3 separate regions of the Homo sapiens genome follow, and all the other regions are linked to region 3. The links come from fine-mapping of genetic effects on gene expression. A gene starts in region 3. Each other region holds a variant in brackets. All regions are shown on one strand. Distances are from middle to middle. Region 1 overlaps TLR6 (toll like receptor 6). Region 2 holds the start of TLR1 (toll like receptor 1). Region 3 holds the start of TLR6 (toll like receptor 6).

The links.
Region 1: its variant is fine-mapped to the expression of TLR6 in whole blood (INTERVAL, PIP 0.98).
Region 2: its variant is fine-mapped to the expression of TLR6 in whole blood (INTERVAL, PIP above 0.99).

The regions. Positions count from the first base shown.
Region 1 is chr4:38,824,620-38,834,183 of GRCh38, forward strand. It overlaps TLR6 (toll like receptor 6), which reads right to left. Exons shown (of 2, transcript NM_006068.5): 2 at 1-4,918. The coding sequence starts at 4,854. The coding sequence ends at 2,464. Among named protein-coding and RNA genes, the nearest start is that of TLR1, 25 kb to the left of the region's middle. RefSeq lists an enhancer at 6,848-7,017. The variant G/A (reference allele first, on the strand shown) is at 2,588.
Region 2 is chr4:38,796,209-38,806,759 of GRCh38, forward strand. It overlaps TLR1 (toll like receptor 1), which reads right to left and starts at 8,583. Exons shown (of 4, transcript NM_003263.4): 1 at 8,546-8,583; 2 at 8,098-8,174; 3 at 4,649-4,740; 4 at 47-2,690. The coding sequence starts at 2,623. The coding sequence ends at 263. RefSeq lists enhancers at 6,420-6,714, 7,783-7,832, 8,069-8,238, 8,105-8,274, 8,182-8,351 and 2 more. The variant A/C (reference allele first, on the strand shown) is at 5,426.
Region 3 is chr4:38,852,521-38,863,071 of GRCh38, forward strand. It overlaps TLR6 (toll like receptor 6), which reads right to left and starts at 4,297. Exons shown (of 2, transcript NM_006068.5): 1 at 4,241-4,297. RefSeq lists an enhancer at 4,746-5,945.

The sequences.
Region 1 (9,564 bases), 28 kb before region 3:
TTTAAAAAATCTGTTCAACAGGGGTTGTGGAAGAATGTGCCGTTTGGGATAGAGCCTAGGGAGGAAAACAAATGTTGTTCTCCTGAAGAGCAAGGAAGGGCTAATGCAGACAGAAGATGATGCTAATAAAATATCATTAAGGCTTATTTCGTTACAGCTATTATGAAACCAGATTTTTTTTCTTTTAACTTTTTTGAGATGGAGTCTCACTCTGTTGCCCAGCGGGGAGTACAGTAGCGCTGTCTCAGCTCACTACAGCCTCTGTCTCCCAGGTTCAAGTGATTTTCCTGCCTCAGCCTCCCGAGTAGCTGGGACTACAGGTGCACACCACCACACCCGGCTAATTTTTGTATTTTTAGTACAGACAGGGTTTCACCATGTTGGCCAGGCTGGTCTCGAACTCCTGACCTCAAGTGATCCACCTGCCTCAGCCTCCCACAGTACTGGGATTATAGATGTGAGCCAACGTGCCTGGCCGAAACTGGTTTATTGAATGAACTAAGTCCAGAAAGCGAGGGCTTCATTTTTCTCTAACCATTGCCTTACAACAAAGTTCTGTTGGATCTCCTCCCATCATCACTCCTGAATCTTGGGCAGATACCATAAATTTTAGTGACAAATCTCACTTTAGTCATTGCACCTCTATTTAAGGGATTAAAATGTCCAGGCCAGTCCAATTTAACAGCAATCTCACACCTCATTCAAAAATCTGCTTGGCCTTCCTTGCAGTGAAATGACGAAGGCATATAGTCAGTTTCTTTACTCTTCCTCCATTGTCTCTGTCTTCTCTATATTCTAGATGTCCCTATGCCATTGCAAGGGAAGAGGGTATTACACAAAGAGGAGCAGATCTTCCTGTAGTTAACTATTGAATAAGGCAGACAGGCCAGCATGATCCTGCCAGCTGCTATGGCAGAGTCCAAATGCTGGCTTTTTCATAGGGCACATCTGTGAGTTATTGGAGGGCCTTGAGTGTACCCCACATTGCACAGTTCCATGATGCAGGGCCACATTATCTGGCTGACCTCTTGCAGCAACCTCCACCCCAAACCCCTCTTCTGCCTAACCCCGTGTCCTCTTACTGCTATAGTTTCTTTGCACAACAGGCTACCCTGTTGGCTGATATCCCGTCATGACAATGCAAGCCCAGCTACTCTTCCATAGTCAAAGCCATGTGAAGAAATTCACATCCTTTTACCATGTCAATAATGGGAGGGCAGGTTGCTATCAGTGCTTCTCTTCTCTCATCCTGCCATTTTGGGTGCTCAAGCCAACCTTTCACCTCCTGAATTCCCCAGGGGGGAAGAACTCATCTATTCATTCAACAAATATTCATCAAGCACTTGTATTTGCCAAACACTATTTACCAGTCTCTGTGTTCCCAGTGCCCACCCTCGGACTCCAGCAAACACTCATCAAGCTCTTCCAAGAATTCTCAAGCCACACCACATCTGCTGCACTGAACCTGTGTGCTCCTGTTACTCTGCAAGCTTTCAGTCTTGGAGTGGGATGCCAGGCTACCTTCTACCATGCTGAGTCCCTCACACTTGTCTGCAAGAAATTCAAAGCAATCTCCCTATGGCCTAGAACCTCCGCTTAATGACTCTTTAATCACGCTTTTGACTCTAGTCTTCTAGAGATGGATAATACGGACTGGGAGTCATTGGTCTCTTTCTGCTCTTTTGATAAGTCCAGACTGGCTGTGTCTAGTATCATGTTGGTGCAGTTACTGTCTTTCGTCAGCTTTGAGCCTTTAGCCAGAATTCTAAGACAACCAGAAAAGTCCCATTCAATATCCAGCTGCAAATAAATTTGGCCGAGTTTTCTTGGAAAGCAGGTGGATCCACGTCTTTCACCTCAACAGCTTATGATTAAGTCCATATATCCCTTTACATACATACACTATCAAGTCATGAGTCCTCATTGGTTAATTACATATTTGTGTAGCAGGATAAAAAATTAAATAAGCTATTACACATATGTGAAACAAAAGACTTTTTTATATGCCGTAGCTGATCTAATTTTTTCCCCAAGCCCCAGACTTGAAGAGAATGATGACACTGACCCAAAGACCAATATGATTCACAGGGCACTCCGAGGACTGGTGCATATGATGCTGAAGTTGACTGTTCCCTTGCTGCCATGAAGCCATATAAACTCTTGCTCACAACAGAATCCATTTGGGAAAGCAGAGTGGAGAGGAGCTGAAAAACTGAGCATTTACTCAAAAGAGACTGTTTCAATTTGAAACATAATGATTAAACCAGAAGAGACTGGGCTGTCTCTAACTGGCAGGCTAACCTCACCGCCTAGCTCAGTTCCCCAGATGAAACATTGTTTTTGTTAAGTCTTTCCTGAAGGCATGAGGATAATGGAGGCACCTCCAGACAGTTACTTACGACTGTACTATTCACCATCATCCAAGTAAATAATGGTTTCTTAAGTTGAATTTCCTAAATTTTTTTAAGATTTCACATCATTGTTTTCAGTGACTAGTGTTAATTTCATATTAAAAGCGGCTCTAATGTTAGCCCAAAAGAGCCCACGTTTGCTTTTCTCCTTGGGCCACTGCAAATAAGTCCGCTGC[G/A]TCATGAGAGCCTTCAGCTTGTGGTACTTGTTGGGAATGCTGTTCTGTGGAATGGGTTCCAGTAAGATGAGGATTAAGTTATTAGATCCTTCATGAAAGAGATTGTGATGGGCAAAATAGAGTTCGTAATGGCACCACTCACTCTGGACAAAGTTGGGAGACAAAACAAAGATGGACTTGTAACTCTTCTCAATGCAGTTGATGATATTTTCCACAATGCTCTTGCCAGGGACAAAGTTTCTCTCATGAAGACAAATCTGTATATCTTCTTTTTCTAGGTAAGGTACCAATTCACTTTTCACCCAGGCAGAATCATGTTCACTATATGAAATAAAAGCATGAAACTGGAGGTTTCTTTGGAGTTCTTCTAAGGGTATGTTCCTGGCCCTGCGCCGAGTCTGGGTCCACTGGCACACCATCCTGAGATACCAGGGCAGATCCAAGTAGATGCAGAGGGAGGTCACAGTCACAGCCAACACCAGCATGGTGGCACCGATGGTGACGATCAGCAGAGTTATGTTGCAGGATAATTCAGACATGTGAAAGTCCTTTAGTGGGCTTCCTCTATAACTTTCTGGGTAGTCACACTTATAAGAATCAGGCCAGCCCTCTAACACTTCACTTGATACTTGGTCTATATTTTTGACAAATTCTCTTAGCTCACAGGTACATTGGAATGGATTGTCCCCTGCTTTTATTGACCTCATCTTCTGGCAGCTCTGGAAGAAATCAGCCGATGGGTGGGAAACTGAATTGTGATCAATGATCAATACAGAAAGGCTGCTAAAGCTGCCACATCCAGGAAGGTCAGTTAAAGAATTGAAAGCAACATTGAGTTCTTGCAAAGCTTCCAGTTTTACGACTTGTTTAGGAACGCTCTTTATTTTATTGCTGTGAAGATCAAGTACCTTGATCCTGGGAGGTAAACATCTGAAAACAGAGTCAGTAAGCATATTTGAAGACAAATTTAACACCACTATACTCTCAACCCAAGTGCAGTTTTCTTTATGTCTACCAGATTCCAAAGAATTCCAGCTAACATCCAGTATTTCCAAAGAAGGCATATCCTTCGTCATGAGACCTACTTTGAAAAGGTCTTTTAATCCATTCTTTTGTAAGATAAGTGTCTCCAATTTAACTAACGTGGAACATTTTTCAAAAATACTATCTGTGAAAACGTTCTGGGTAAAGTTCAAAAACTTGAATGTGCTTGGTGCATGAGGACACAGCATGTGTATAAAAGGTGTATCTGAAATGGTTAACATCATAATGTTCATCTCAGAAAACACGGTGTACAAAGCTGTCTGTGAAAACAGAAAAACTTGGTTCGTGATATGTTCTATTGTCAATGCTTTCAATGTCGTTTTAGAATAAGTAAAATCTTCTTCACGAATGCTTTCAATTATTGTTAAATTGTAAATATTGAGATATTCCACAGGTTTGGGCCAAAGAAATTGAAAGACTCTGACCAGGCATTTCCAAGTCGTTTCTATGTGGTTGAGGGTAAAATTCAGTAAGGTTGAACCTCTGGTGAGTTCTGATAAAAATTTAATGAAAACTTGACAGTTGTCATCATTCAATTTAATATTAGTCAGTTGTAAGCACCCTAAAGTATTAACTGATATGTTCACTTGGATAGCGAATAAACTAGTTGGGTGAAAAACAAGGTGAAGGGTTTTTGCATTCAGAATTTGTAGACTTTCTGTCTCATTTTCTTTTATATAATAATTTCTTAAATCCAGAAGGATATAACTTAGATGCAAGTGAGCAATTGGCAGCAAATCTAATTTTTGCAGCTTCATAGCACTCAATCCCAAGAAATTCAGTTGTGATAAGTTGCCAAATTCCTTACAGATGGGCAGGGCCTTGAAATCATTGAATGAGAGATCTAAATGCCTGAAACTCACAATAGGATGGCAGGATATCTTTTGCAACTGATTATGAGATAAATCCAAATATTCTAAATCCTGGTTGAACTTGAAAACACTTAAATCAAGTAGCTGGATTCTGTTATGGGAAAGTCTCAAAACTGTCAACTCTGATAGAAAGCTCATGTCAGAGACCTGAAGCTCAGCGATGTAGTTCTGAGACATATCTAAGACTTTGGTTTTCAGCGGTAGGTCTTTTGGAACATGAATAAGACCTCTTTTTGACTTGTCTACTGCAAATTCATTTCCGTCGGAGAACTGGATTCTGGTTCCAACTATTATGATCATAAGGCAAACAAAATGGAAGCTTTTAACAATAGGTTCTTTGTCTTTGGTCATGATGTTGCAGTGGCTATCCTAAAGGGTTGTTCTTCTTCAGAGCATCTTGATATGAGTCCAAATTCTAGAAATATAATATACACTAAGATTAATAAAGATCGGATGGTTACTCTCAAACCTCCACTTACTAACCATAAAATCTAAATGATTTCTTCATTCACTAGTAGAGTCATTTCTGTCCCCATAATTTAATGTAATACTTTTTATAACCAGTTATATAGCTTGCTCATGCCAGAAGGGGCAATATAGGCCTTGTTATCAAAGAATTGTGGTTGTGTGTTTTGACCTGTCTGGTTGCTGCCTGAGGGATTCACACTCAGGGGCTTGCCTTTGTTTTGTACACCTTAGAACTTTCTCAGGGCTGGAACAGCCTTCTGGCTGGTGTTTGCTGTAAACAATTAAAGGCAAACATACTAGCTGCAGCCACCTGAGCAAGGGCTAACAGAGGGGGCAAGCAGCAGACACATCAAAAAGTCTGGGAAATATGCAAAGATATATGGAGAAAGATATGTGGGAGAAAAAAGGCTGAGGAAATCTCTGTATATACCAGGGAGTCCAGAAGTCCACTCACGTGCCCAAGGCTGGACGCATGTTCAGAGGAGACCTGAGAAAATCCTAAACTTCACCTCTGGCTCATCTTTAGCTTCCATGCATGCAGAAAGTGAAGGCTAAAGCAGAGCTGTGAATAGACTGGCTAAGCATTGAGAAAGTGATCCAACACAGCCAACCTGCAAAGATCAGGGGTGTTTTTGTTTTTGCTTTTGCTAGTTTATTTGGTTTTTGTTTTTGCTCCAGATGTTTAAAGAAATCTCAAGTTACTGGCTGACCACTAAGCTAACTGGACAGAAAATGTAATAGCCACACATGACAAAGAATAATCTTTATAAAAATTATTTAGAAAAGTCATTAAACAAGCAACTATAAGCCACAAGAAGCAACAATACACCCTGGGAAAGGGAGGCCCGGCACAGTGGCTTAAGCCTATAGTCCCAGAACTTGGGGAGGGCAAGGCAGGTGGATTGCTTGAGTCCAGGAGTTCAAAGCCAGCCTGCGCAACATAGTGAAACTCCATCTCTACAAAAAATACAAAACTTAGCTGGGCATGGTGGCGTGTGCCTATAGTCCCAGCTACTTGGGAGGCTGAGTGGGAGGATTGTTTGGGGCCGAGGAAGTCGAGGCTCCAATGAGCTGTGATTACACCACTGCACTCCAGCCTGGGTGACAGAATGAGACCCTGTCAAAAAATAAATAAATAAATAAATAAAACACCTCTGGGAAAGGGGGACAGAATTTGATTTCTAGAGTTACCTCATTGTAGTGTTTAAAATGTCTGATTTAAAAAAATAAAAATCAAAACAAAATAATCACTAGCCCCCAGATTTGCCAGTGGACTTGCTCTACGTTTTGCCCTGAAATAACACAAACCTTGCAAAAAGCAAATGGAAAGAGATTGTTATCTTTTTGATTGTGTAACTTGGCATTAAAGGAATCTCTAATTTATTTGTTTAAAAAAATTAGCCATGCAAAGAAACAGAAAGTATTGTTCATTCACAGGAAAAAAAAAAAAAAGAAATTAAAAGAACAAAGCCAGATAACTGACACCACCTAACATTGAGACTTGCTACAAAGCTACAGCAATCAAGGCAGTGTGGTTTTGGTGAAAGAATAGACAAATAGGTCAAATGACCAGAATACAGAGCTTAGAAATAGACCCACAAAAAAATAATCAACTGCTGTTTGACAAACGAGCAAAGGCAACTCAGTGGAGAATGGATAGTCTTTTCAACAAATGGTGCTGGAACAATTAGACCTCCACATGCAAAAAAAAAAAAAGAAGAAGAAGAGAAAGAATTTAGACGCAGACCTTACAGTTTTCACAAAAATCAGCTCAAAATTAACCATAGACCTAAATGTATAATGCAAAACTATAAAATTTCCAGAAGATAACATAGGAGAAAATCTAGGTGACTTTGGATTTGGTGATGACTTTTGAGATACGCATCAAAAACATAATCCAAGAAAGAAAACACTGTTAAGTTGGACTTCATTAAAATTAAAATTTTTGCTTTGCAAAAGACACTGCAAGAGAGTGAAAAAGACAAACCACAGACTCAGAGAAGATATTTGCAAAACCCATATATGATAGGGACTTGTATCCAAACTATGCAAAGAACTCTTAAGCTCCACAATAAGAAAACAAACAACCTAGTTTTTAAATGGGCACAAAAATCTAAACAGACACCTCACCAAAGAAGATATGTAAAGAGCAAATACACATATACATAGCTATTTGACATCATATTTCATCATGGTTTTGCAGATTAATACAGCAATGAAATTACATTACACTTATGAGAATGGGTAAAATCCAAAAACAACATCAAATGTTGGTGAGGATGTGGAGCAACAAGAACTCTCTTTCACTGTTTGTGGGAATGCAAAATGGTGCAGCCACTATGGAATGCAGTTTCTTATAAAACTAAGCATAGTCTTATCACACAATCCAGCAAATCACATTCCTGGGTATTTAACCAAAAGAACTGAAAATTTATGTCCACATAAAAGCCTCCATGTGGATGTTTATAGAAGCTTTATTCATAACTGTCAAACATTGGAAGCAACAAGATATCCCTCAATAGATAAAAATATTAACAAACTGGTACATTCACACAATAAAATACTATTGAACAATTAAAAAATGAGCCGGAGAAGCATTAAAATGGCTGAATAGAGGCACCTAGCCCTCACCCCCTCTGCAAAGAAGGACCAAAACAGTGAGCAGATAATCACACATTGAATGAGCATCTAAGAGAGAACACTGGAATTCAGCGGAGAAGTGACAGTGCACCTCTGAGGCATGGGAGAAGAGGGAAGTGAAGCAGCCAGCCCAGCTGGGACTAGCTCAGAACCAGGAGGAACTTCCCATTCCAGGGAAAGTTTAACTGAGAGATCTTCAGAGGTCAATGTTTCCACTATGGACTCCTGTAATCCTAGCCATGAGCTAGCTCCTTGGCCTTCACATGCCCTGGGGCTGTCTGGAATATATGCAATCACATTGTTCCACAATGGGACTTCACATTGGGTCCCACATACCCCATACCCTGAGACCCAAACAGCTTCAGCATAAGGCTCTTTTAAGAGCCCAGCCCTCACCATACACATCCTGTTCTGGGGCCCAACAACCCTGAATCTCCACACCCCTGAAGCCCCACTGATATTCTCCTACGTCCACCTAGAGGGCTACAGCATTGTAATGCCAGCTAAGATCAGCAGTGCAGCTAGGTCCCCAGCACTCTAGCCCATGCAATGCCCCGCATCCCAGGAAACAGGAAGCACAGTGCACCTAGTGGCTTTCCCTGGGACAAAGGGAGTCAAAGTGTGCATTCCCCAGAGCCTCAGAGTTACCTGCCCAGGGCCACCGCCACTTACAGCAACCCCATCTTCCCTAGCAGCAGGACTACGACACATCTACACATGCCTCCAAGGGGCCTGAGGACAGGTCCACCATGCCCTTTGCTGCTAGTGCCTGCCTGCCACTGCCATGGCAGGGCAGTGCCACACAGGGTGTGGCACATGCATGCCACACGGGGTCCTGAGGACTGGCTTGCCCAGCCTGCTGCTGCCTGTGTCTACCACTTGGGGGCCAGAGGGTTGGTCCACTTTTCCTACTGCTACAGTTAATGCCACACAAATTGTGCAGGGGCCCAAGAACCTGCCCTCCCACTTGGTCCATTACTGCCACTGCAAGCATCCAACTAAATCTCCTGGAGGCTCAAGGACCCATCACCACGAGTGCCCACATATTTCACACAGGGGCCTGAGAACCGGCAAGCCTAGGCCACTGCTGCCACCACTGTTGCCTGAGAACAGGCCTGCCTGGTGTCCCCATCCCCAGCAAAGCCTTGCCATAGTGTCTGCTGACAACTGTAACCTAAGCCACTGAGGAACCCAAATGCCACTGACACTGATGACAGGTGAAGAAATCATACAGAAACTACACTGCTGTGCCCACTCAGAATCAAAGCCAAAGCACCCTATACTCAACTAACACTATAAAAACACCTAGAGGCAAAAGTCTTTCCCTATCAAAGCCAATCCATAAAATTGGAAGCAGCAGCTATTACATCAGATCCATAGATATCAACATAAGGACACAAGAAATACAAAAGTGCAAGGAAACATGAAGCCTCCAAAGGAACACAATAATTCTCTAATAACAGATCTCAACAAAAAGAAAATCTATAAAATGCCTGAAAAGTAATTCAAAATAATGATACTAAAGAAACTCAGTGAGTTACAAGAGAGCATAGATAAATAATAAAAGAAATCAGAAAAATAATTTATGATCTGAGTCAGAAATTCAACAAAGAAATAGATATTAAAAATAGAACAAAACAGAAATTTTGGAACTACAGAGGTCAATAAATGAAGTAAAAAAATATAATCAAGAGCTTGTACAAACAATAGACTAGGCCAGGTGCAGTGGCTCACAACTGTAATCCCAGCACTTTGGGAGGCTGAGGTGGGTGGATCTCCTGAGGTCAGGAGTTCGAGACCAGCCTGGCCAAAATGGTGAAACCATATCTGTACTAAAAAAAAAAAAAAATTACAAAAATTAGTTGGGCGTGGTGGCAGGCACCTGTAATCCCAGCTACTTGCGAGGCTGAGGCATGAGAATTGCTTGAACCCAGGAGGCAGAGGTTGCAGCGA
Region 2 (10,551 bases), 56 kb before region 3:
ATGATAAATTCAGAACTCAGTTATAGCAAAGAAACAAGTGGATCCCTTATGTGTCAGAACTGTTTAAATCAAAGTTATATCATTTCATTAATTTTTAATACCACATATAAATGGTGAACTGCGACCCGAAGGTATATATTTTTACCTACATCATACACTCACAATTGTGTTTACATCTATGCTGATGCAAAATAAAGTCATTGTTGGAACTTCCAAAAGCAGCAATATCAACAGGAGGAATATTTTTCACTTGATGTGTAATCTATTTCTTTGCTTGCTCTGTCAGCTTAATATTAATGGCTGCCCTTAAGTTAGCCCAAAAAAGGCCACGTTTGCTCTTTTCCTTGGGCCATTCCAAATAAGTCCTCCTGGCCATGAGACTTTTGAGCTTGTGATAACTGCTAGGAATGGAGTACTGCGGAATGGGTTCCAGCAAGATCAGGATTAAGCTATTAGATCCTTCATGAAAGAGATTGTGATGGGCAAAGTAGAGTTCATAATGGCACCATTCACTCTGGACAAAGTTGGGAGACAAAACAAAGATGGACTTGTAACTCTTCTCAATGCAGGTGATGATATTTTCCACAATGCTCTTGCCAGGAACAAAGTTTCTCTCATGAAGGCAAATCTGCATACCTTCTTTCTCTAGGTTTGGCAATAATTCATTCTTCACCCAGAAAGAATCGTGCCCACTATATGAAATAAATGCATGAAACTGGAGATTTCTTTGGAGTTCTTCTAAGGGTATGTTCCTGGCCCTGCGCCGGGTCTGGGTCCACTGGCACACCATCCTGAGATACCAGGGCAGATCCAAGTAGCTGCAGAGGGAGGTCACAGTCACAGCCAACACCAGCATGGTGGCAACGATGGTGACGATCAGCAGAGTTATGTTGCAGGATAATTCAGACATGTGAAAGTCCTTTAGTAGGGTTCCTCTATAACTTTCCGGGTAGTCACACTTATAAGAATCAGGCCAGCCCTCTAACACTTCACTTGATACTTGGTCTATATTTTTGACAAATTCTCCTAGCTCACAGGTACATTGGAATGGATTGTCCCCTGCTTTTATTGACCTCATCTTCTGGCAGCTCTGGAAGAAATCAGCCGATGGGTGGGAAACTGAATTGTGATCAATGATCAATACAGAAAGGCTGCTAAAGCTGCCACATCCAGGAAGGTCAGTTAAAGAATTGAAAGCAACATTGAGTTCTTGCAAAGCTTCCAGTTTTACGACTTGTTTAGGAATGCTCTTTATTTTATTGCTGTGAAGATCAAGTACCTTGATCCTGGGAGGTAAACATCTGAAAATAGTGTCAGTAAGTATATTTGAAGACATATTTAAACTTAATAAACTTTTAGTCCAAGAACAGTCTCCTTTCTTTTCATCATAGCTTACAGAATTCTGGCTAATATCCAATTGTTGCAGAGACTTCATCTGTGTAGTCATTTCAGCTATTTTTGAAAGTTCTTTTAATTGATTCATTTGTAAAATAAGTGTCTCCAACTCAGTAAGGTGCCCACAATTTTCAAAAACCGTGTCTGTTAAGAGATTATTGGAAAAATCCAAATGCAGGAACGGGCTAATTTTGGATGGGCAAAGCATGTGGACCATGCGTGTACCAGACACTGTGAAATTTTTGATGTTCATATTCGAAAAGATTTCATAGATATAACTTTGCGGAAAACCGAACACATCGCTGACAACTTGGTGTATAGACAAGGCCTTCAAGGAAGTGCCAGAATAATCAAAATCTCTGAAGTCCAGCTGACCCTGTAGCTTCACGTTTGAAATTGAGAAATACCATACAGTTGTATGCCAAACCAGCTGGAGGATCCTAATGAAAGAATTCCAAGTTGTTTCAATGTTGTTTAAGGTAAGATTTGATAACTTTGGATTTGTTTGAAGTTTCGCCAGAATACTTAGGAAGTAAGAACATTTGTTATCTTCTAGCACACATTTGATATTAGATAGTTCCAGATTTGCTACAGTCTTGACTGACACATCCAAAATAAAATGGAATTCTTTGTTTGTGGGGAACACAATGTGCAGACTCTCAGTGTTAAAGTCTTGAAGGCCCTCAGGGTCTTCTTTTTCCCCATAAGTCTCTCCTAAGACCAGCAAGACCTTGCTGATATTCAAATGAGCAATTGGCAGCACACTAGATTTTTCTAAGTGTGTGGTGCTCAACCCCAGAAATTTTAGTTGAGACATATTGCCAAACTCTTTGCATATAGGCAGGGCATCAAATGCATTAAATGACAGGTCCAAGTGCTTGAGGTTCACAGTAGGGTGGCAAGAAATCTTCACCAACTTGTTGTGGGACAAATCCAAGTATTCCAATTCCTGGTTGAATTTGAAAACACTGATATCAAGATACTGGATTCTATTATGAGAAATTATCAAAATCCTCAGTTTTGACAGTGATAAGATGTCAGAAGTCCAAAGCTCAGATATATAATTTTGCGATATATTTAAGATTGTTGTTTTCTGGGATAGGTCTTTAGGAACGTGGATGAGACCGTTTTTTGACCTATCAACTAAAAATTCACTTTCTTCAGATAATTGTATTCTGATCTGAAGTATTAACATGAAGATAATGGCAAAATGGAAGATGCTAGTCATTTTGGAACACTAGACATTCCTAAAGGTAGAAGCTGTTCTTCAGATCATCTTGATACAGATACAGATTCTAGAAAAAAAATAATGAAATGATGAAATACATTACATACATTTTTAAAATACACGAAATTAGTCATGGCTGACATTAAACTTTTTTTTGTTACAGACTTATAAAGTGGAGGCTACATTCTTTTGGGTTACATGGCCTAAAACTAGAGAAGTATATATATTGGTAAATAATGATGCCAGCTCTAATCAAATAAGTTTTAATATGGATGGTGTAATAGGTTGAATGGTGGCTCACCAAAAGATATGTCTACATCTTAACCATGTCCTAATCCCCAGAAACCATGAATGTTACCTTCCTTAGAAAAGGGGTCTTTGCAGAGATAATAAAGTTAAGGATCTTGAGATGAGGAGATCATCCCAAATTATCCAGGTGGTCCATAAATCCAATGACAAGTGCTTTTTTAAGAGAAAGGCAGAGGGATATTTGACAAAGAGACAAGAGAAGAGGCAATTGAGACACAGAGGAGAAGGCCTTGTGACAGTGGAGGCAGAGACTGGAGTGCAGCAGCTACAAGGCAAGGAACATCAACAGGCGCCAGAAGCTAGAGGAGGCTCTGGAGTGATGGTGGCCCTGCTGACACCTTGAGTTTCGACTTCTGCTCTCCAGAACGTTGAGGGCAAAGCCACCACGTTTATGATCATCTGTTACAGCAGCCTCAGGAAACTAATACAGGTGGGTTCATAGAAAGTTTTCTGGCCCCAAGCTTCCCAAAATTATTTAGAACTCCAGCTAAGACTCAACTGGTGTACTTTCACTCTTTGACGTACATCTCCCCATGACTTTCTCAAGAGGTGTTCCTAATGGTGGTATTGGGACTGCTCTTCTATTACCCTTTATGACCTATACACGGTTTGGGTCTAACTTTGGTCTTACTCAAAAGGTAATTAGATCCTGATAAAAGGCCTCTCAGAAGATCCATTTATTCATCCATTTATTTATTCAACCAGTATTTATTGATCACCTACTGGCCATGTTTTAAGAACTGGAGATAGAGCAGTGAACAAGATAAAGTCCGAATTCTCAAGGAGTTTTTATCTAGTGGGGAGACAGAAAATAAATGAATGACTAAACTCAAGTTCCTGTAGTGATAAGTTCTGTAGAGAAAAATAAAGCAGGGTAAATTGTAGGTATGAGACAGTGCTTGGGGGTGGCTATTTTTGAGTGATTAGTTAGAGAAGGCCTTTTTGAGATGATGACACTAGAGTAGAAATCAAAATGAAGTGAATGAGTAACCTATGGGAAGATCTGGGTAACCTACAGCATTTCTGGCAAAAGAAAAGGCAAGTATAAAGGACCTGAGATGGAATTGAGCTTGGCTTGTCTGAGAAGGAACGGGAAGGTCAATGTTAGTAAGGAGTTAGGGAAGATGAGAGGAGTTAGGGCCAAGATCACTCAGGCTTTGTTGATCATTGCAAGGAGTTGGGATTCTATTCCAAAAATGATGAGAGGGTGGAGAACACTGGGAGGTTTTGAGAAAGGGAGTTGTTTCCTCCTCTCTCTTATTCAGAATACTTTTTTCATTCATTCATCAAATATGTATTTATTCTCCATGCAGTGGTAGGCACTGTTCTAGGTTATGCCTATTGTACCAGTATTCAAACTGCTCTAGCTAAGACACCATTTTGTGGTCAGCATTCCAGTGGCGTATGAGAACAGAGGGAGCTGTGTTGGGATGAACTCTAGAGTGTGCAGTCCTCACCTCCAGAGACCCTTTCAGCCGTGATTACACAGCTACCCAGTTCTCACAAGGAACTTATTCAAAATCCCCTAGAACCATTAGACAAGCAGGGCATTAGTATCAGCAAAGCACCAAATTCCTCTTCACATATCCCCTCCCATATCTCAATGAGCACAGAGAACCTAAATAATTTAGCTGCTACAAACAACCCTCGGTTACAAAAGTTCCCCAATTTAGATGTGCAAACTTATCTGGGTTTTGGAGCCTTCCTTGGACTTACCCTTTTGTAGGGGTGCCCAATATGCCTTTGTTATCCTGATTTCTTCTAACGAGGAAGAGGGCCTGGTACCCCTATTAGTGTTCATGAAGACCCTGAGCAAGGAAGATGATGCAGACATTAATGTTCATGTTAAAAGTCAAGGTGGTGTTTTTATGACATTAACTGTATTTGGCTGAAAGACCCGGAAATTTCCCAATTCTTCCTCTCCAGCTTCCTTAAAGAGCTACTCACACAAGGAGCAATATTTCAATGGATGTTATAGCTTGAATGTTTGTGCCCTGTGAAATTCTTATGTTGAAATCCTAACCCCCAAGGTGATGGTATTAGCAGGAGAAAATTGTGAAGTAATTAGGTCATAAGAATAGAGCCTTTATGAGTCAGATTAGTACCTTTATAAAAAAGACCCCAGAGAGCCTCAGGCTGTCATTCTGCCATATGAAAATACAAGAAGGAGGCATCCGCAAACCAGAAGAGGGCCTTCGCCAGAACCCAACACTACCACCCTGATCTTAGACTTCTACCTTCCAGAACTGTGAAAAGTAAGTGTCTGTTGTTTATAAGTCACCCATTCTGGTACTTTGTTACAGCAATTTAAACAGACTAAAATAATGGGAATAAAAATAATACCCTGGGGCAGTGCCAAGCTAGGTCGAAGCAAAAGTGGCCTGGTCTTAAGGCCTAAGTGGGGTTCCCTGCTTATTCCTATGCCTGAATCCAGATCAAGGCTCTTTCCACCTCCTAGCCAACTCCAGAGTTCATGGAAGCAGTGATCAGCAC[A/C]GTCAGGCGTGGTATTCAAAAGTGATCAGAGGCACACAGGACCCCGTGCATGAGTGCGAGAGCTTGGCTCGCAGAACCTACCACACGCAAGATGAAAGTTGTCCTTTTTCCCTTAACAACAGCTATCATCACAAAAATATATAAATTTATATAACTGCCTGCCCCCAAGTGTTAGAGTAGGTACTTAGGCAGACATGAGCAGGACAGGAGAGGGGCCCCCCAACCAGGAATATCAGGTGACCATCAGGTGATGATCAGGCAGTTGTTAAACAGTCTCTCTAAGCCGGGGGCCATGGCTCACGCCTGTAATTCCAGCACTTCGGGAGGCTGAGATAGGTGGATCACTTGAGGTCGGGAGTTTGAGACTAGTCTGGCCAGCATGGTGAAACCCTGTCTCTACTAAAAATACAAAAATTAGCCGGGCGTGATGGCAGGTGCCTGTAATCCCAGCTACTGGGGAAGCTGAGGCAGGAGAATTGCTTGAACCCAGGAGGCAGAGGTTGCAGTGAGCCAAGATCATGCCATTGCACTCCAGCCTGGGCAACAGGGCTAGACTCTGTCTCAAAAACAAACAAACAAAAACAAAAAAACAGTCTCTCTAGAATAATAATTGTTTGCAGCCAGCATCAGGGAAAGTCAGTCTCCTAATAGATAGAAAACACACCTGAAGCTGGTGGTTAGCAGACTCCTGACAAACTCTCAGGAGCTGGGCAAGCAGGCTTGAGCATGCATACCAAGAGGCAAAATGGCGGACTTCAACGGGTATGTGACCTTCCTCTAGGAAGACTTGTCTGGCAAGGGAAAAATGTCTCCAATGAGCATGTACACAACTTCAGTAAACACAGTGTGTGTGCAGCCCATCCCAAGGGCTGGCAGGCCACTGCACATGCAGACAGCCCACCCCAAGGGAAGAATCAGGGGAGAAGAGACGCAAGACTCCAGAAGCCTGCCAACAAATAAGCCCCAAGTAATAGGTTAAACTGGGCACTTGGATCTCTCAAGTTGCCCACTTGGCCCTCCTCCAAGTGTACTTTATTTCCTTTCGTTCCTGATCTAAAACTTCTTAATAAACTCTCTGTAAGGAATATGGCTGTGCTTTGGTCAAGGATAGGCCAAGGTAAACATCCAGAGTGACTCAGCGAGTTTAGAGCGCAGGCGTATAACTCACTTTTTATCATAGCCATGTAGACATAACATAGAGAAGCTTACCATAGCCATAACATAGGGAAGGTTCATCCCTTGGCTCTAAGCCACTATTGTCCGTAAATGGTATAATTGCCCTGCTGACGCTGTACAGGTGCATTGGCAGCCAGAGAAAGAGAGAGAGAGAGAGCCAAAGCTGTCCATCTTTGCAGATGGACTGAGGGGAGCCAGGACACAGCTCGGCTTGCTTGTACCCAGAGAGAGAAAGAGTTAAGCTGCTGACCCTGAGGGCAAGGGAGAGCCGGACGCACAGTTGTGTGTGGAAGCTGCCGAACTAAGCAGCCAGGACAAGGCGGACAGTCTGAGAGAACTACTGTAAGTAAGCTGCTAATGAGAGCTGTTGCTGAATAAAATCACCTTTCACCTGCCTACGGCCCCCTGAGTGTTCTTTCAGCTATCTGCTCATCCACCCCCTCCCCTCAGACCTCAGTATGGGCTGGAACCTGGCCCTGGGCGTGACACTCTCTCTCTTACTCTAAAACTTGCCTCGGTCTCTCACTCTGCCTTATGCCCCTCACACAAATTCTTTCCACTGAGGAGGCAAGAATTAAGTTTCTACGACCCATATGGATTCACCACTGCTAACGCAAGCATTTAATGAAAGCATAGCTTCAGTTTTATGTCGAGCTAAATTAATTGACTCAAATATCTTCTATTTGCCTAACCTCCATCTTGCCCTTTCATTTAAAGTCATTAATTTTAAGTACTCAGTTTATGAAACCATTCTTATTTCTATAATTAAGAAATCAAAATGTTATACACAGGAATAACTGATTTTTAATACTTCCAGGATCTTTGAATTTTATATACCAAACTTGCTAAATCCATGAAAATCAATGTCTCAGTTTCCTAGACCAAAGAATTTTTTGATCAACGTCTTAATGACCATGACTGAGCCTCATCTATTTTAGAACCTTTAAACTCTTTTACTATCCAAAAAATAAGCTGAGCAGAAAAGGATGCTTTAATTTGAAAGTGTAAAATGCCTCTAGGTGAGCTTCTGTGAATTTTCATTATTATGATAGGTTTAGCCTCACATTATATGATACAATGAATCAATACATTTAATTTGTCTTCTTTTGGAGACTTTGGAGGCATCAAATCAAGGCTTTGACTGGTCTTAATGGACAATACCCATACAATCTATCTGGCCCATTAAGTTTAGTCCTGTAAATATTTACTAAGGGCCTTCTCTGCACAAGACCAAATAGCTATTAACCAAAGGTTAAAAGAATCTGAGACAGTTCAAGAACTGTTCTGCTTTGCTTTCTATGCGGTTTTGTGAACTCTTGCTTTGTTATAAAACAAATTCACTTTCAAGTCTTTTGACCAAATTGGATGTAGCCTGGGAAACATTTTCAAAACCTGCAATTCTACCTCACGTCTAGCTCCCCAGAACAGTGTTAGTGGCCTGAGAAACAGAAGGACTAGCTAGTGGGAAGGCCCCAGAGAGAAAAACTGAAACAAACCTGGCCACAAAAACAGAAGAGCTGAACAGCAGCATTGCCTCCGGGAGTAACTGACTTATATCTCATTTTCTTTAACACTGAGAAGAGAATACAAATGGCGGGATTAGGTGAAGAGAAATGCTGTCAAAATCAACAACTAGCAGCTGCTCTGGAAGAAAACCAGAAGACGTGTGTGACCCAAATATTCATTTCCCAACTCAAAAATATTTCCTATAAGCAAATCACACACGAGGTGTTATTCCCAGAGGAGTGTGGGGACTTTCTCTGATTTAGGACTCAGAACTGATACACAAATGCCAGTACAAACTACACAGTAACTATATACATATCAGAAATATAACCCACTTAGAAAAACACCCAGGACTTACACAGATTTTTGAGACTTCTGTACTTAATAACTAGCTATACAATTATTTTCTTTTACAAAAGAAAAGAATGTGTTGCTTACCAAGACAACCTGCTTGTCTGTTCCATTTGGCAGTCTGTAAGAAATTCAAGCACTTCCTTGAATTTATTTCACTGTTAACCACATTTGGTGTTGAAAACAAAACAAAACAAAAAGGCTGTTTTATGCCACCTACCGAATTCCACTGGAATTACATTACATAGTTAAGAATAAACTTATTTTCTCTTATTCATATGTAGCATAGTCTGTGGGTTACCTGATAGGCCTGTATTAAAATAGAATCACGTTTCTATGGTTCCAAATTTCACTACAGTCAGTTTACTATTGTCTACACTGATGAAGTAAATGAGGTAATGTTAATAATCCACAGATCATAATTGGCTGAATTCAAAATGCTTACCGTGGTGGCTATGCTTGGCAGAAGTGTGCGTCTGGGTGTGTTTCGGCTGCTTTGTTTTTCCTCTTGCCTTTTCATCCATCCACTATTAAAAGTGGAAAGAGGGAGGGGTCGAGATTAAAGTTTTGCTGAAGCACACTCGTAAAGAGGGAAGATCATTCATGTGCTGGTTACAGGATGGATGTTAATCACGTCTTTTTTGACAAGTTGATTTTCAGAGAAAATTTGGTGCTGAATTTTTTTCCACTGATCTTTTCAAGCTTTCTTCAAAACATATTTTTGTAAACCCTAAGTGAAAAATATGCTAAGAAGAAAAGAGATTCTTAGCGTGTTTTTCACATAGGGTTTATAAAAATCCTGGGGTTTGTTGACAGCATGTTCAAGGAAGACATTCTGATAGCTCTACTCTTGCCTTTTCCAGTAATGACAACAACAAAATAACAACACAATAAATGGGCAAATAAAGCTATGGGATTCCAGCTGACTGCCTCTGAAGTTGATCTCAGCCTGCATGGTGTCCAGTCAAAACCGGATGTGGGGATGACAAAACTGCCTCCCTTCCTTCCCTCCACGGTTCTCTCCCGTAATCAGCTTTTCTACCACACAGCGAGCAAGGCCAACTTCCCTAAACTAAGAATGCTGAGATTCTTTTCGACTTATAATGTTCTGACTGTCTCTCTCTGTTTCCCCTTACCTCAGAATTTGTTTAATAGAGGAAATATGTTATGTCTACAGATATTTTCTGAAACTGAAAGAATGAAACCACCCACCTGCCATTTCCTCCCTGAGACCCATAACTGGACAGGAGGGAGGTGTCTTTGACTAAGAATTTAGTTCCTGGCTCCCAAAGGCATTGACTTTGTGAATCCAGGCTGAGGGAGCAATGCCCAGGGGAGGGAAGTGGGCAGGGCAGTAAGGGAAGCTTCTCAGCACTCTGAATTCCTGTTTTTCCCCACAGACTCATCCCCACTACTCCCAGTTGTGTACATGATTACAAGTGTGTGTGTCTCTGCCCACCCCTAGCCCATACCTGGGCATTTCTTTTTGGATTCAGGGCAGTAAAAATATGCTGTCAATTAGATGTAATCTGTAGTTAGTTGTGTTTTTTTTTAACAAAACCTTATTGATATATAATTCACAAACCATAAAAAATTTCACCTTCCATAAAAAATTTCACAAACGATAAAAAATACACCCGTTTAAAGTGTATAATTCAGGCCGGGCATGGTAGCTCATGCCTACAATCCCAACACTTTGGGAGGCTGAGGCAGGCAGATCACCTGAGGTCAGGAGTTTGAGACCAGCCTAGTAGAGAAGGCGAAACCCCGTCTCTACTAAAAATAAAAAAAATTAGCCGGACGTGGTGGCACATGCCTGTGATCTCAGCTACTTAGGAGGCTGAGGCAGGAGAATCGCCTGAACCCAAGAGGCGGAGGTTGCAGTGAGCCAAGATCACACCACTGCACTCTAGCCTGGGTGACAGAGCAAGACTCTATCTCAAAAAATAAATAAATAAATAAATAAATAAATAAATAAATAAATAAATAAAATAAAGTGTCTAATTCGGAGGCACCTACCTGCCTCTTTTTCCCCCTGCTGTCCAGTGGGTCACCACAGAACAAACACACACTTGTAATCATGTACACCCATC
Region 3 (10,551 bases):
AACAAATTTACAAGAAAAAAATAAACAACCCCATCAAAAAGTGGGCGAAGGATATGAACAGACACTTCTCAAAAGAAGACATTTATGCAGCCAAAAGACACATGAAAAAATGCTCATCATCACTGGCCATCAGAGAAATGCAAATCAAAACCACAATGAGATACCGTCTCACACCAGTTAGAATGGCGATCATTAAAAAGTCAGGAAACAACAGGTGCTGGAGAGGACGTGGAGAAATAGGAACACTTTTACACTGTTGGTGGGACTGTAAACTAGTTCAACCATTGTGGAAGACAGTGTGGTGATTCCTCAGGGATCTAGAACTAGAAATACGATTTGACCCAGCTATCCCATTACTGGGTATATACCCAAAGGATTATAAATCATGCTGCTATAAAGATACATGCACACACATGTTTATTGTGGCACTATTCACAATAGCAAAGACTTGGAACCAACCCAAATGTCCATCAATGATAGACTGGATTAAGAAAATGTGGCACATATACACCATGGAATACTATGCAGCCATAAAAAAGGATGAGTTCATGTCCTTTGTAGGGACATGGATGAAGCTGGAAACCATCATTCTCGTAAACTATCGCAAGGACAAAAAACCAAACACCGCATGTTCTCACTCATAGGTGGGAAATGAACAATGAGAACTCTTGGACACAGGAAAGGGAACATAACACACTGGGGCCTGTCGTGGGGTGGGGGGAGGGGGGAGGGAAAGCATTAGGAGATATACGTAATGTAAATGACGAGTTAATGGGTGCAGCACACCAACATGGCACATGTATACATATATAACAAACCTGCATGTTGTGCACATGTACCCTAGAACTTAAAGTATAATAATAAAAAAAAAAGAATGCACACATTGTTCTTTCCGGAAGTTTTAACCACTGTAATAAAGAAAAAAAATGACAGGAAGAAATACTGAAATGAAGAAAGAAAATCATTATTATTTTTAGATTATAAGACTGTCAATGTGGAAAGCCAAAGAGAAGTCATTGAAAAAATGTTAGCACCAATAAAAGACTACAATAAAGTGGCCGTCACAAAATAAATTATTATCATTACTATTTTCTTAAACACTTTCTTTTTAAGAGACAGGGTTTTGTCCCACTGCCCAGGCTGGAGTGCAGTGGCACAATCATAGCTTAAGGTCCTGGGCTCATGCCATCCTCTCACCTCAGCCTCCCACGGAGCTGGGGTTACAGGTACAAGCCACTGCTCCTGGCAAAAATAAATTCTATTTTGAAAACAAATCCCTCAATTATCCAAAAATAGCAGGTTATCAAATAAATTTTAGTATCTCTGTATAATTAAATAGTACTATGTAGCCTTTAAAAATAATAAAAATCGAATTGCATGAAAATATTTTCACTATATGTGACAAAAAGCAGTTTATTTAAAAAGTACCAAAGTAAATATGTACCTATGCAAGTAGAAAAATTAATAAGATACATACCAAGATATGAACAGTAATTATCTTTGCACAGTAAGATTATAATGGAACTTTATTTTCCTCTTAGTTTTTATCTATATTTTTCAAACTTTTAACATTCAAAATTAAGTTTACTGTACTATTTACTGAATAATTTGCCAAAAATCAATTGCCAATAATATGAATAATGTGCAATCTCACAAAAAATAAAACAGCACGTTAAATCAAAAAAGCACATAACATCTAGATGAAACTCATGATCTTGGATTAGATCTCAGTTAAGACAGACTTGCTATAAAACATATTCAGTAACAGAAGGAGGGGCAGATTCTATGATGGACCAGCCATTAGATGCTATTAAGAAATAAATTGTAATTTTTTATAATGTTATTTGGCTATTTTAGGAAAATGTAATTTTTTTAGAGATAGAGAATAAAGCTTTTAGAAATAGGTTTCCAGAATGCCTGTTATTTTTACTATAAGATATTTAAGCATAAAAAGAGGAAGGGGGTCAAAGGAGGACTCTTGTTTCTTAAAAGATTTTTTAAAAGGCAAGATTTTTTTTTCACCTATCAAATAGGGAAAATTAAAAAATATAATATCCAGGTTGGTAGGTGGAAACTAAAATAAGAACCCTCATTTACTACTTAGGCAGGAATGAAAAATTAGTACAAGCTTTCTAAAGGGTAATTTGGTAATTTACATAAATTTCTTAAAAATATACCTTCCTTTATTTTAGCAATTCCACTACAAGGAATTTTCTAAAGAAATAGTCAAAAATAACACACAGAAGATATGACTATAAGGATACTCATGACATAATGAAATATTGAAAAAATCAGAATGTCTAGTGTAGAAAATGATTAAATCAGTTATGTATAATTAAATAATAGCCTCAAATACTGTACTTTGAAAAAATGATAATGTTAAATGAATACAGTAATAGAAAATTATGGCCGGGCGCAGTGGCTCACGCCTCTCATCCCAGCACTTTGGGAGGCCAAGGCGGGTGGATCACGAGGTCAGGAGATCGAGACCATCCTGGCTAACGGTGAAACCCCGTCTCTACTAAAAAAAAATACAAAAAAATTAGCCGGGCGTGGTGGCGGGCGCCTGTAGTCCCAGCTACTCGGGAGGCTGAGGCAGGAGAATGGCGTGAACCCGGGAGGCGGAGCTTGCAGTGAGCCGAGATCGTGCCGCTGCACTCCAGCCTGGGCGACAGAGCAAGACTCCGTCTCAAAAAAAAAAAAAAAAAATTATATATGTAGTAAGACTCTAATTTTGCAAAATATGATTAAAACCTGACATATACGTAAAAGCTAGAGGACAAACAATGTGATGAAATATACCAAATACTAATAATAGTGGTTCTCTGAATCTCTGAATTATAGATGAATTTAATTTTCTTTCTTATACTTTCAGATATCCCTAAAATGTCTCATTTTGAATGTCCTTTATAATCCAAAAAAGTTATCGTAAGGCAATTTAAGAGTTGTCTTTATAGCTGTGTGAAAATATTTTATATTTAAAGAAACGTGCTTGTTTTATTTGGAATATTAAAATATAAAGATGGAGAACTTTCAGATAATAGTAGATAACTGGCATTCACAGATGAGGACCTACCCTACAGGTCCCCGGCAACCAGACCCACGGTGTCTGGGTTCATGGGACTGAAAATCAGTCACCAGGTGGAAAAGCTGGTCAGCTGTCCTTATGGTATCCTGCCACAAAAACGCAATATTCCTCCAGAGGCGTTCATACCCTGAGGCAGTTCCTAGGGAATACACTAAATGAACAAGATAGTAACTTTTCTATTTATTGGGAAAAAAGGAGGGAAAAATGGGAAGATGAGAGTGGAAGATTAGAGAGTTCACAGTTTTTTAAAGAAAGTAAAAATAAACAGGTAAATGCTCTTGATTTTTTAAATGCATCAAATAAAAAGGGTGAGGAAATAGATGAAATAAGCTACATTTCAGAAAAAAAGGGTAGACAAGACCTATGAAAATTAAAACTACAAGGAAGAAGAGAGCAGAAAAAAAATTAAGTGAAATAAGTGGAGGAAAGATCACATAATCAAGTTAACAAATAGGCAAGAAAAACATTGTTTCATTTGTCAAACTGAAGGTGGAAGGACCTGGAGGAAGGCAATTGCTACACTGTGCCAGATTCAAGCTTGTGAAGGGGCTTGGTCCCGGCCACTTCCTCCATTTAATAAATGTTTATTCAGAGTCTATTTTTCTGCCAGTGCCATGCTACGCACTAGGCACCAGGGATATAAATATGAATAGGACTGACATAATTCCTGCTTTCAAAAAGCTTATGAATTAGGGACAGACACAGACCAGCAAACTGTTACAGTGACAAACGACAAGGGAGATCAAACACACGTCTGCTGTAAAAACATATAATAAATAGGTGCCATATCAGTGGTATATAAAAATTACTGTTAAATGTTACTGAAAACAATAAACTAGAGAAAGACGAAAAGAGAAAATTCGCTGGGCCAAATCAGAAGAAATAAATAACATTAGTTTTGTTCCTTAATTATCACCACAAGCGCTAGTTGTTTTCTATCTTTTCAAGACAGCTGTAAAGACGCTGCTCTTCATCCTGCTCGTGAAATTCAAAGGACATTTGCAACATCTACAAAAAAAACCACTTCAAATCATTTTGCAAAAATTTCAAGGAAACATTACCTATTTCCTATATAATGAATGGTTAGCAAACTTGCTTACTTGAAGCACCTGTGCCATAATGTGAAAAAGCCACAGAAGTCTTTCTACTTACCAAGATCTCTTTTTCAGAAGAAGAGAAAATAACTTGTAAATGAACGGAAATACAATTGAAAATGCTTGACAAACACAAGTTCTTAAAGTTGAGTAAAGCGGTACCTTAGAAACAGATTGGTGCCATCTGTTGGCCCACACTGGAATTACTCCTACGTATATTTTTACCTTTCAAAGGTCCGGAGGTGAGTTAGCAGTTTTTTCTGGGCTACAGACAAAACCAGTAATCCAATTTTCTAATTCGTGTGAGGAAGCAACTTACAAACAATTCAATGTGAAGAAAAATATTTTTCTAAGGTAATATTTCTCTGTAAGAGTTTGCAGCCTGGTTATTACATTTGTCACCTGAGTGGAAAGTTATTTTAAACAGCCTGTTTTCTATTATCACCATATTTAACATTTCAAGAATAATTGCAGTTTCCCTTATCAAGCAATTTTGAGCATTATTTTAGCTGGATGAGATAGTTTAAAATAAAATAAGTATAGTTCCACAATTTGGGTTTTTTTTTAAAAATCAACTTCTAAGGAAAGTTTACTGGTTGATACATATTTATGACTACATATTTAGCCATATGTACGAGCAATCATACCCACATTCTGATCAACATTTGGTGTTATTAAATGGTTTAGATTTTAATTTAGGAATAATAAATAACACTGAAATCCTGCAAGACTAATTTAAAAATCAATTTTCTAAAGACCATTTAGAAGAATTTCAGAATGACATCAACAAAGGCTGATTACCAGAAGTCTCTGGTTAAACAGAGACTTCTGGTGGACAGTAAACCCTTTTCCCCAGACTTCTTGCTTAACTGAGTTCTGCAAAGGACAGAAGGCATGAGTGAAACAATCATTCTATAATTTATCTCACTGTCTGGCACAATCTCATCTTTATTAAAAAAAAAACAACAACAAGTTAAGACCTTACAATTTGGCTAATGACAAAGTTGGACATCTCCGTAAGAATCACTTCTGCTTTCAGGAGGAAGAGAAAGGCTGGCTTCTTGTGATTCATCCTTACTCATCAAACATAACAGGAAGTCTCCTCAGGCCTGGGGAGGCTCAGTAAGGAGTGGATGGATCTCTGCTCCACTGGCAAAAGGAGACAGCCAGAAAGCAGCAGGTATCTGTGACCCTGGAAAACCAGATTTGTGAAACAAGCCAAGGGAAAGGGCTGGCTGTGGCTCTGAGGGAATTTCAAGTAACCGTGGACTAAAGTCTTAAGAAAACAGACAACTATCACTGCAGATCTGGGCACATTGACATGTCTCATTAGGAGATTGCATCACAACACCAATGTTCAGAAACAAGGAGACTATTCTTGTCGAGGCTGTCATAACTCAGAAACGTCTGTAAGGGGATGACAAAAACACAAAAATCAAGTAATAGCGAAGATGGCAATGACAGTTAAGCAAACAAAGAAACAGACAGTACTGGGCCGAACCTCCACTTGGCCACTTACTGTGAGGCTTGGGACAAGTCCCTTAACCTCCATTTATTCATCCACAAAATGGGAGTACTTTTAGGAAAGATAATGAATTTAAAGTGGCTGGAATAGTGACTGACACAGAAGAGAAGTCATAATAGTAAGGAGTTTGGTGCAAATCATATAGTTTTTTTGTATGCTGAGGGGTAAAGATTTCAGGATATACTATGAAGTGAAGAAAATCAAGGTGCAGGCTGGGCACGATGTCTCATGCCTGTAATCCCAGCACTTCGGGAGGCCGAGGTGGGTAGATCACCAGAGGTCAGGAGTTCGAGACCGGCTTGGCTAACATGGCGAAACCCTGTCTCTACTAAAAATACAAACATTAGCTGGGTATGGTGGCAGGCAACTGTACTCCCAGCTACTCGGGAGGCTGAAGCAGGAGAATCATTGGAACCCAGGAGGCAGAGGTAGCAGAGAGCTGAGATTGTGCCACTGCACTTCAGCCTGGGCAACAGAGTGAGACTCTGGCTCAAAAGAAAAAAGAAAGAAAGAAAGAGAGAGAGAGAGAGGGAGAGAGAGAGAGAGAGGGAGAGAGAGAGAGAGGGAGAGAGAGAGAGAGAGAGAGGGAGAGAGAGAGAGAGAGGAAGAAAGAAAGAAAGAAAGAAAGAAAGAAAGAAAGAAAGAAAGAAAGAAAGAAAGAGAGAAAGAAAGAAAGAAAAGAAAGAAAGAAAATTAAGGTGCAGAACTGTAAGAAGAGTATGACATCAATTGTATAAAATCTAGCCATTTACACAGGTTATCTTCTTGCCAGGCATTGCTGTGACTACTTTCCAAGTATTAACTCATTAAGGTGCTGTGAGATAAGTACTGTCACGTCATCTCCACTTAGCGCAGCTGGGTAATCGTTCCAGCTTGCACTGCTGGTCAGTGGTGGGGGTGGGATTCGAACCCAGGCAGTTTGGCCCCAGTGCCTATGCACTTAAGCATCATACTATGCTGCCTTAGAAGACACCCTGTGTCCTCATAAGACACACAGAGAAGAGAGATACAGAGAAGCAGAGCATTTGCAAACAGAGGCAGAGACTGGGGTATTGCAGTCACAATGCAAGGGATGTCTGGAGCCACCAGAGGCTGGAGAGAGCATCACCCTATGAACAGCTTGATTTTGAACTTCTAGCCTCCAGAACTCTGAGAGAATGAATTTTTGTTGTTTTAAGCCACACAGTCTGTGGTGATTTGTCATGGTAGCCACAGGAAACTTAATACAAGGGTCTACATACATATGTTGATAGAGGCATATGAATCTTTTTTTCTCAAAAGATACATAAGAAATGTTCACCTTTGAGCAGAAGAACTAAGAGAAATAGATTATTGGCCTTTTTTTTTTTTTTTTTGAGACAGGGTCTCGCTCTGTTGCCCAGGGTGGAGTGCAGTGGCGTGATCACAGCTCACTGCAGCCTTGACTTTCCCCACTCAGGCGATTCTCCCACCTCAGCCTCCCAAGGATCTGAGACCACAGGCATCCACCACCATGCATGGCTAATTTTTATATTTTTTTGCAGAGACAGGGTTTTGCCATGTCGCTCAGGCTGGTCTGGAATTCCTGGGCTCAAACAATCCGCCCACCTCAGCCTCCCAAAGTGCTGGAATTACAGGATTGAGCCACCCCGCCCGGCCTCTTCACCATTTTATGCTTTTTGTCCTATTTGAATTCTTCACTATATATAGATATGTATATATGTCTTAATTTTTAAAAAATAGTGTCACACTGGGTTAAGTATTATAAACATAATCTGAGGCCACCCAATACACTGTCCCAATACAGACACAGGCAAAACATTATTTTGATGACTTTTACTTGTTAAAAAATGTTGTCTTTCTCCAGATAATAAATAAATAAATAAATAAATATTAGTGTCTACCAACAGCTTTAAAGTAAGTTTTGTGACAATTATCAATATCATAAGATACACATACGACAGAGATAAGATTGATAATTTTGGCTGGGCGCAGTGGCTCACACTTGTAATCTCAGCACTTTGGGAGGCTGAGGCAGGCAGATCACCTGAGGTCAGGAGTTCAAAACCAGCCTGGGCAACATGGTGAAACCCTGTCTCTACTAAAAATACAAAAATTAGCTGGATGTGGTGGCTGGCGCCTGTAGTCCCAGCTACTCAGGAGCCTGAGGCACGAGAATCACTTGAACCCAGGAGGCGGAGGTTGCTGTGAGCTGAGATCGTGCCACTGCACTCAAGCCTGGGCAACAGAGCGAGACTCTGTCTCAAAAAAAAAAATGCTAATTTATATATTAAGTATTGATAGTAAACCTAAACTTCTCTGCTGAATTAAAAAAAAAAAAAAAAGACAAGCCGCAGACTGGGAGAAGGTATCTGCAACTTGTATAATCACAAAAGTGTTAATATACAAAATATATAAAGATTTCCTACAAATCAATTTTAAAATGACTAACAACCCCAATGCGGGGAAATGAGCAAAGGAGATCAACAGATGGATAACAGAAAAGGAAACAGAAATAGCTCAAACACATGGAAAGGTATGCATCCTCATTAGAACATGGGAAAATACAAATTAACACAACCAGGAGACACTATTGTACACCCCTAAGGTGGACAAAATTTAAAACATCTAGTAATACAAATGGTGGCCAGAACATGAAGAAACAGGAGCTCACATACATGTCCAGAGATGCTGATGTAAGTGGTCTGGGAGGGGCCGGGCATACGTTTTATTTTGAAAGCTCTTCAGGTGAGTCCATTTCATTGTAACCCCATGAAAATCAGGGGACTGAGACCTACACGCTGGCCTGAGCACAGCGCCCTCTAGTGGTCTATATCTTCTTGGGTGCACCCTTCACACACCAGAGCCTGGGAGGTGGTGCAGGTGTTCTTGACTCTCACTGCTACTTCCAGATCACTTTCCTTCCTCCAAACCCACCCCTTCTCATTGCAGTCATCTAGTGAGCCCCATCACTTCATCAAGTATTCTAGCAGTACTCACTATTTCAATCCGATACCACCCCTTTCATAATTCTAGTGATTTCCATAGCTACATAGAGACTCTTCCATTCACCTGGCCTCTGAGTTCTTGGACATTCTCTCTTCTAATAATCTTGTCCTGCACCCTACCTCAGTCATGCATTCCCTTATTATATCCTAGATATCATTATTAGCAATGGCTGCACCCCCTCCATAATCTCAGTTGCCTGAATCCCACTTTCCTTCTCTCACCTCCAACTCTTCCTCCAGTGCCAACGATTCCCCAGCCCCACTGCACTGGACTGAAAGATCATGCTCCATCCTCTTCATTATTCTTCTGCAGCTACTTACTCCTCTTTCCTCAACCCAGTTTAAATCCAGCTCTCCACTGGACTACACTGAGCTTGAGTGGCTGAATATAGTTGGAGAAAATACACACCCATGCTGACTGGCTTACTTGAAATGTATGACTAGATCCCAGCCTCAAGAGAGCAGCCATCCTCCTACCCTCCTTACTACCCTTCCCTAGCCCCTTCACTCTCCTGTTCTCCTCTTTCACACCTCCTCTTGTCTCTTTCACTTCCAAAATCTCCTTCTCGTGTCTAGGTCCTCTTTATCTCTCTGGCATGGATTACCCAAGGCTCAGATTTGGACCACTTCTTTTCTAAATCCATGCATTGTCATCTGGGTCCGTGGCTTCAAAACTATCTGCTTGCTGATGTCTCCTCAATTACCAGCTCCAGGCCAGACTTCCCTGAACTCCAGACTCTCACATTCAACAGCCTACTAAATAGTTGCTAAAACATTCTTGTTGAAAACCAACATTCTCACGCGATGATGCTTCATTTTCACAATGAAAATAGATGCTACCAGAGGAGCATTTCCACATCTTCCCCTGAAATTCTATAAGCCTCCCCTGCATGAGTTCTACCTGAACTCTTGCTGTCCTTCGGAATGAACTCTCTGTGCCAAGAGCCAGCCCCTTCCCACTGAGCACTGGGTCCCCTTCCTGCTCATCTACTCAAGGAAGTCACTCTTGCAATGATCTTCTCTCTACTGTATCAACATTTTTCTGCTCTGATGTATTATTCCAATCACATTTTTTTTTATTTTAGATAAGGTTTCACTCCCATCACCCTGGCTGGAGTGCAGTGGCATGATCTTTGGCTCACTGCAACCTTCACCTCCCAGGTTCAAGGGATTTTCTTGCCTCAGCCTTCTGAGTAGCCTGGATTACAGGTGTGTGCCATCACTCTCCGCTAATTTTTGTATTTTTAGTACAGACGGGGTTTTGCCATGTTGGCCAGGCTGGTTTTGAATTCCTGGCCTCAAGTGATCTGCCCGCCTCAGCCTCCCAAAGTGCTGGGATTACAGGCGTGTGCCACCACACCTGGCCCCAATCACCATTTTTTTTTTTTTTTTTTTTTTTGAGATGGAGTTTTGCTCTGTCACCCAGGCTGGAGTGCAGTGGTGCAATCTCAGCTCACTGCAACCTCCGCCTCCCAGGTTCAAGCAATTCTCCTGCCTCAGCCTCCCGAGTAGCTGGGACTACAGGCACGTGCCACCACGCCCAGTTAATTTTTTGTATTTTTAGTAGAGACAGGGTTTCACCCTGTTAACCAGGATGGTCTCGATCTCCTGACCTCATGATCCGCCCGTCTTGGCCTCCCAAAGTGCTAGGATTACGGGCATGAACCACTACACCCGGCCCCCAATCACATTTTAAAGCAATAATTTCTCCCATCTAAAAAAAAAAAAAAAAAAAAAAAACTCCCTTTGAATCCACAACCTTCCCCTCCTTGCTCCTCTATATACCAGAACTCCTTGCAAGAGCTTTTACTGACTATCTCTAATTGTTCTCCTCTCATTCTCTTAAATGTACTTCAG